Homo sapiens: one gene and its partner. The protein of the gene in region 2 purifies or fractionates together with the protein of the main gene of each other region. This does not show direct contact. Each region holds a gene or a part of one and is shown on either strand. Other genes may lie near its edges. The genes, in order: LEF1 and NARF.

Region 1 (3,757 bases), on a different chromosome or scaffold from region 2:
CCAGCTGTTCCCCAGCTGCACCGAAGGTTAGAAAGGGGAAATCGAGCTAGAATTTCAGCAGAGAGGTTTAAGTTGGACCAGTGATAGTGGTTCTCAAAGTAGCTCAAGGGATAGAAAACCATCGTGGAAGACCATGACATATTCTTTTAAATTTAAATATACTTTTTCCTAATCAGATACCAACTTATAACATGTACTAGTAAGGTAAAAATTATGAAATACAGCTCAGGACTTAGAAAATGTTGACTGGGGAGATGGGTGGGGGTGTTAAGACATACCTTCTCCACTGGGACCCCACAATGTGGAAGCCCAGTTTGAATACCAATGAGCTATGAAGAGAGGCGGTACCTGTGGACTTTCAATGAGCACGACAACCAGATGGTGGGAGCCCATGAGGATCTGTGTTCAGGAAAGGACTCACTCCCATCTGAATCCTGGCAACCCTCTTTTTTCCTTTGACCCTGTTTCATACCACCTGGAAAAGGAGGGAGAGGCCCAAGCCATACAAGTACTTTTGAGGACTGCATGTCTAGGAGACAGGGCAAGGTGCCCATTTACAGCCGGTTCTGGCCTGTCCCTGGAGAAGGCTGCACCAGCAGCACCCCTCTCACACAAACTGTTCCTCTCTACAAACCAGCTCTGCCCTGGCCTGTGGATTCAGTTCATTAGCAATTTTAGATTATCAGGAACTTCACTCTTAATAAAATGACAATTTTTAAAAATGTTTTATTACAAAGCTTCTTTTAAAAAAATGCTCAGCACATTAACTCAAACTGGAATGACAAACGTTAGGATGACAGTTTTGGGCAAAGGCTGTGCCTTGCTTTTTTAAAAAATGGGTACATCAATGCTCATTTTAACAACTGGCATAAAATCCCACTAATTGGCTAATAAAAACAGATACAAATACAGAACATTTAAAGTAATAACAATTCAAGTGCTGGGCTTTTTACAACAAGGGGGTGATAAGGAAAGAAATGAAAATTCACTGCAAACCAGTCTGCTGAACGCATCTGTTAAGGTTTACTGTTTAAAAAAAGAAAAGAAGAAAACAGAAGAAAAAATAAACTGAAATAGGGCTGCCAATTGCTACCAACAGAGTGGGTTTGGCTATTACATTTATTTAGCTCTACTGAACACCTTACAAGGGCGGAGAAGCCACTATGTGTTACAGGCAATTCACAGAGAAGCCACTTACCAGACAAGCTGTCTCAGAAAAAGAAGGCTTCTTTTTATGTCATTATTTCAAACTTTTCCAGAACTTTCAATTTTATTTAAAAGCTCATAGCTAGCAAAATATACAAGAAAATTAAAACTAAAAAGTGTAAATTAAAAAAATTCAAGTTTAAAAAAGCAAAAAAAAACGATCCTTTTGCACTGTTAAATAAAAGCTTTAGGAGAAAAGAAAAGAAAGAAAAATGAAGCAGAAACAAAGAGGGAACTCTTCCATGAACTCCTCCACTGGGGTGCTGATGGATGTGCTGGTTGCTGGCTCCAGTTGCGCATGACAGGCAAATGCAGCCAAGTTACCGTCCTTGCCGAAAGGTTACAGGTTTGGATGCAAGATGCTCTGGGAAGTGCACGCAGATATGAGGGGAGAAAAGCTGCTCAGCTGCCCCACAGCCTGCTAGCATTCTCATGTGCTTTTACATTTCCTTTTAAAAAACCTTTTTATGCTTTATTTTGGAACTTGGCTCTTGCAGTAGACGAAAGAGGGGTTGGCAGTGATTGTCTTTATGGATCAGCGTCTCTAGCAGTGACCTCAGGGTAAAATTGATGTCAGTGTTCCTTTGGGGTCGACTGGGCAGGCCGTGGAGACAGTCTGGGTTTTCAACAAGCTTCCATCTCCAGAAGAGGTCCTGGGGTCGCTGCCTTGGCTTTGCACGTTGGGAATGAGCTTCGTTTTCCACCTCAAGAAGGAACAAATGAAATGCTATTAATATGAATTTGCCGTAGGCCTTAAGATTATAACCTCTATTCCATACCATATATGTCTTACAACCTCTGCATTTAATTAATCCATTTTGTTAATTTGGGGATGGCTAAAATGAATTGCCCTATCAGTCAAAAATCCTGAGAGTACACTACAGAGTTAATATAGTGACATTTTTACTTTGGTTCCATGTATACGTATGCCCAGAGTTATGATGTGAAGTGTAGTGAATACTCTGGGTCATGGTAAACAGAACAAAAAAAAAGTTTGAAAAACACCAGTAGGAAACAGGCAAACATGAATAGGGAAGGCGGGCAACAGCCAGATCAGGGAAAGATGTGTCATTCTGCAGTGTTTGGTGTTTTTGGTCCACTGTGGGAAGCCACTGTATGATTCTACATAGGACAGACATAATCACATTACCCAACGCACTGCCAACTCCCGTGACGCTATGTGCTCTGTCCGCTCACACTCACAGCCCAGAGGATACAAACCGCTCCCTTTTTCCTTAAGATCTTACAATTTTCAAGATTTTTTTTTCCTTCCTAACATCAAGGATCTCTAATGATAGCCTCGGAAAGGACACTCAGCAAATATGTTAAAATAATGTTGCCAGATATTGGTGATAATGATTTTCAAATAAGAGAACTCCCACATCCTCAAAGCTTTAATGATCTGAGATTTTTTAAAAAGTGATTAAAAGTAAAATGTAACATTGTAACAAGATGAGACAAAGACAAAAGGAAAGTAAAAGCATGGCAAAGTTCCGTTCCTTCACTCCAGAGAGCACCTGCTTCCGCTGCTTTGAACTTGGGGAGGCTGCTTTCCTTTGGTGGCAGCGATGCTGGAAGCACCTTCTCAACCTGGGTCCCTTGACAGCCTCAGATGAATCCCAACACTTTGTGCTTGTGATTGTGCTATCCGTGTTACAAGCACAAGTTTCCTTTTAGAAACTCATTCTAAATAATGGTGGATTATCGTACACTTTCATTTCAATGGAAAAAGAAAGTAAAAGAGAAATAAAAGGAAACTTTGACATAGTTTAATAATGAATACAAAAGTCTAGATGGCAAGTTACAGTCCACAGAGTACTTTCCATGGAAGGATGGTGATCTATGGAATGGGAACTGCGAGGACACCTGCCCTTCAGGCTTTTGGAAAGAGAGGTTTGGCTCCTATATTTAAAGTGCTCACAAAGTGCACAGCACAGAGCAAGCCCTGCAAGCAGGTTAGCTAGTATTATTATTCCAATTATGCCCAATGCGGCCCCTAAAGATGATCAGAACTGCAAAGAAGCTATTTGTATACCTGGGTAGCTACTGAAAAAGCAAAAACCAACCAACCAACAAAAAACAAAATAGGAGGAAATCAGCCACAGAATGATTTCAACTGAGGAGGTCCTCCAATGACAATTTCATTTTCTATTCTCCTGGAAAATCAACCATTCCCTGTTTAACAGGAAAACACTACAGCATTGTGTTAATCACTATATTATCACTTGTACTCAGCTTAAGAGAGGAGGAGAAGGCACCCTTAGGTAAGGCAGTGAAGGGACAAGAAGACTGGTGGAGCCGGAAGTGCAGGGTGCTCTAGATTGGAGGTGTTAGCCCTGCTTGAGAATGGGGCCACAGCAGGGCCATGGAAGTTGTCTGTACCTCAGTACTTCACAGTTCGCTGTGCCAGGCCCACAGAGGTATGGATCTTGCACGCAGGAGGATCAAAGAGCTACGAAGGACCCTGCCTTTCTACGGAGAAAGAAACAGGGCTCTAGCAGAGCCTGGGGTGGGAGAGAGGGCACCCCACAGATTCCTATTTACATTATAA
Region 2 (3,814 bases):
TGCTTCCCGTGGAGGTGACAGCATGGAAACCAAGAAGTGCTTTTCAGCCTCATCTGCCTTTGTCTCTTTCTCTTTCACCTGTGATATGGTTTGGCTCTGCGTCCCCACCCAAATCTCATGTGAAACTGAAGGCTGGGCCTGGCAGGAGGTGACTGGGTCATGGGGGCGGATCTCCCACTTGCTCTTCTCATGATAGTGAGTGAGTCCTCACAAGATCTGGTTGTTTACAAGGGTGCAGCACCTCCCCCTTTACTTGCTCTCTCCTGCTGCCACGTGAAGACATGCTTGCTTCCCCTTCACCCTTCCGCCATGGTTGTTCCCTGAGGCCTCCCCAGCCATGTCTCCTGTAGATCCTGTGGAACTGTGAGTCAATTAAACCTCTCTGCTTTATAAATTAGCCAGTGTCACGTAGTTCTTTGTAGCAATGTGAGAATGGACTAATACAACCTGTCTCACGGAAAGACAAGTGGCACCTCTCGTTCTGTATAGGAGGTCTGCAGGGATGAGCTGAAGGAAGGAGCTTTGGGAATTTTTACTTCCTTGGAGTGTCTCTGCCTTGCCCCAAGCTGATCGGTCTATTAGAACATAACTCTCGTGTCCGAAAACGTGCAGCCGAGGCAGAACAGCAGGAGCTCCGGCTCTGTGCTGCCCGCATGATCACCAACACCCGTGTTACCTGACCTCACCAGGCAGAGGCCCCGCTTAAGCCACAGGAGCCTGAGGGGTGATGCCAGCCCCCCACCACTGCCTGAGCATTATTAAGGGAGCAGGAAATTGTGCGGGGATTTTGCTCTTGATGGAGAGGTTTGGAAGGTCAAAGCAGGATGTTAGCAACACCAGGAAAAGGCTGAGATGTGCATCCGATGTCCCAGCAGAGGCTTCTGTGCAGGAAGCCAGGCCTCACCTCCACTTCCTCCAGGTCAGCTCCCCAGCATCAGCAAATGCCCCGAATGCCTTACCTTGTTAAGGTTCAGAACGCGGAAGAAGTCCTTGGCATTTTGCTGGGAAAGTTGGACTCCTTCCTCTGCAGTCATACAGCTGTCACATGCCAGGCAGTCGCTCAAAAATATCTTGGCATCAGCCAACTTGTGGAATTCTCCCTTCTATGAAAGATGACGTTTCAGCATGATTATTCAACAAATACTCTTTAATGTGCTTCTTTAGAGAGGGTAACACCCATATACAGAATTCACAGTAAACATTGGAGATAATACCAGGGTCCAGGCCTGGTGCTCAAGGGGCTGGAAGCAGGACAGTCTCTGCCACTGAGCAGCTCAAGGTGGTGAAGGGACACAGGACACAGGGCCCAGCCCACAATGACACTAGGGAACCATGCAGATGACAAGGGTGGAACCCAGCCCTAGCACTGTCACGTGGTAGGAAGTAAATGACCCCTGTGTTCTGGAAGCTCACCCCACTGCTAGACCCCTTCCTCCTAGACCCCTTCCTCTTTGGTGCCTGTGATCCAGCCCTCTGACTGCTCCTCTAGCTCTGTGCCCCCTCTTACCATCCCACGGCTCCCTGAGGCCACCCACAGCCCTGGCCTCTCCCTTGAGGCTCAGAACTTTACAACTCAGTGCTGGCTCTGGGTTTGCACTCGGACATGTAACAAGATGCTTATCCTGACCTGGATGTAGAGTCACTCTTTGATCCCCTCCACCCTCTCCTTCCTGACTGGCCCTTGTGCTCCCCGACATCTGCTAAAACATAAACCACACCTCTGCTCTGCTCAGACAGCTGCCCCTCACACAGAGGGCCTGGGCAAAGCCAGTGGCCCCTGTCTGCCCGGGTCCCATCACAGCCCCCTTGGTCTCCACACGTCCAGCCCCACTGGCCCTTGCTGCTCTCGCCATCCTTCTGCATGAAGCAACCTCTAAGAGCCCCAGGCTCACCCTGGGTGGCCTTCAGCAGAGACGATGTCCAACACCTGCTAAAACAGCACCACCCCCTCACCCGTCTCTTCCCTCCCCACCCATCTGTACTTATGTTGCTGACTGCTAGCAGGAGTCTGTCCCTCCTCGCTAAAATGTAAGCTCATGAGAGCTTGAACACTGTCTTGTTCTCTTGTTCCTCAGCACTTCCAAGAGGTACTGCACACAGACAGTGCTCAATAAATAACTGGTGGATGAACATATGAATACTCTGAAGCTTACAGGAGTAATGTCAATAAATTACAGAAGCTCCTCAGGTAGTCCATGCATTCGTTTTTCTTTAAAACTTGATTTGACAGGAGACGGCTATGGATGTGCCTCCTCCTTCCACAGCGTGCTACGAACCGCAGCTCGGGTGTCACCTCTGCCTCCTGCCTACACATGACCCCATGTCTCTGTGCAGCCCACTCAACCTGGGATCTTGTTCTGCTGCAGATGGGCACTCAGGAGGTCCGCATGGGGCTCAAGAGTTTGTGCTTCTAACAAGTTCCCAGTGGGTCAAAGCCACAGCTCCACTCCAAACATCTGGTGCCCATAGCTGCATGAATTGTGCCTCCACAGCCCATCCCCACTGAGATGCCCATGACCAAACTGCCCCCCTCACCCAGCAGTGCCTCCTCCCTGCCTTGCCACCAGACATGCTGTGTATAACCCAGTCCTTCCATAAGTTTTCATGGTCCAGGTCTGATTCCCTCCTCACCCCTCACATTCTTTCTTCTTATTCCTCCTGCCTTCCACACTGATGCATTCTACAGAAGTCCTGTTCCCTTTTATCAGGCCTGCTGGCCTCACTCAGCCCAGGGCAGCCCTGCCACCTGCACTTCCAGCGGAGTGCTCTCACCAAACCCCAGACTCACACACCGTAGAAGGCCCAGTGTCTGTGGAGCTAAAACTGCACTCCCTTCCCTGCACTACGTCCTCTGTTCTGTCTCTATCACTCTGGTAGACTTGCCCAGGCCCACCACCTCTGCCTAGGCTCTCAAAGCTGCCACCCAAGTGGCTTCCTGCAATTCTTCCCCTACTCTAGCCAGCTTAAGTCGGTTACCTCCATCACCTGCCCTAAAACAAACACCTGAGTCACCCCCTCACGGTCTCCACAGCTCTGCACTGTCATTGACCTGGCCAAGGGGAGCCACTGTCTCTCCCTAGAGCACGTCTGTCCACACCCTCCTCTTGCCTGGTGTGCCAGTGCCCTTCCCTACACTCCCACCCTGAATTCTGACCACTCTTCAGGGTCCACTCCATTAACCCCAACCCAACTCCTCTCACCCTGTGTCCATCACTGACCTGGCAGGGCGCCCACTTAGGCTGTGTACACACGTTATCTCATCCTCACCACAGTCCTGGGAGGGAGGTAACCCTACTCCCCAGGCCTCTGATAAGGAAACGAGGCTCACAGGGCTTAGATATCTGTCTACAACGACACAACCAGAGGGCAGGTGAGGGAGGCCCCTGGGGTCGGCCACTCAGGCGCACTGGCCCCAGCTGCCTCCAGGGCTCCAATGCACCCTACCTCTCTTCTGCCTGTGGCCAGCTCTTTGGCTGCTTGTCTCAGGCCCTGTTGCTCCCTAAGCCCCACAGTCCCCACAGCACTGGCACACAGGGCAACCGGGAGAACACCTGTCAGATTAAACATGTCAGGACTACTAAACTTAAGGAAAAAATATGCTTCTGCCATATTGCCAACTCTCCATTTATAAACTGGTACTAGTACTTTCTAAGGGTAGACTGACCTTAACCTCTCCCAACACCCTTCACTCAGTAAAACAGGGATAATGGCCAGGCTTACATGTAATGTTCCTTCTGGGCGTGAAATGAGACTGCATGTAAAATGACATTCTTTTTTTTGAGACGGAGTCTCACTCTGTCGCCCCAGCTGGAGT

What was found.
Region 1: the proteins of NARF (region 2) and LEF1 purify together in Homo sapiens (affinity purification with western blotting; 2 studies listed by BioGRID). This does not show direct contact.

Annotation. Positions count from the first base shown.
Region 1 is NC_000004.12:108,046,842-108,050,598, forward strand, and holds the end of LEF1 (lymphoid enhancer-binding factor 1), read right to left. Parts: intron 1,911-3,757; coding exon of another isoform or gene 1,831-1,910; 3' UTR 707-1,830; downstream 1-706. UniProt on the Homo sapiens protein: Transcription factor that binds DNA in a sequence-specific manner. Participates in the Wnt signaling pathway. Activates transcription of target genes in the presence of CTNNB1 and EP300.
Region 2 is NC_000017.11:82,461,576-82,465,389, reverse strand, and holds part of NARF (nuclear prelamin A recognition factor), read right to left. Parts: intron 1,104-3,814; coding exon 960-1,103; intron 1-959.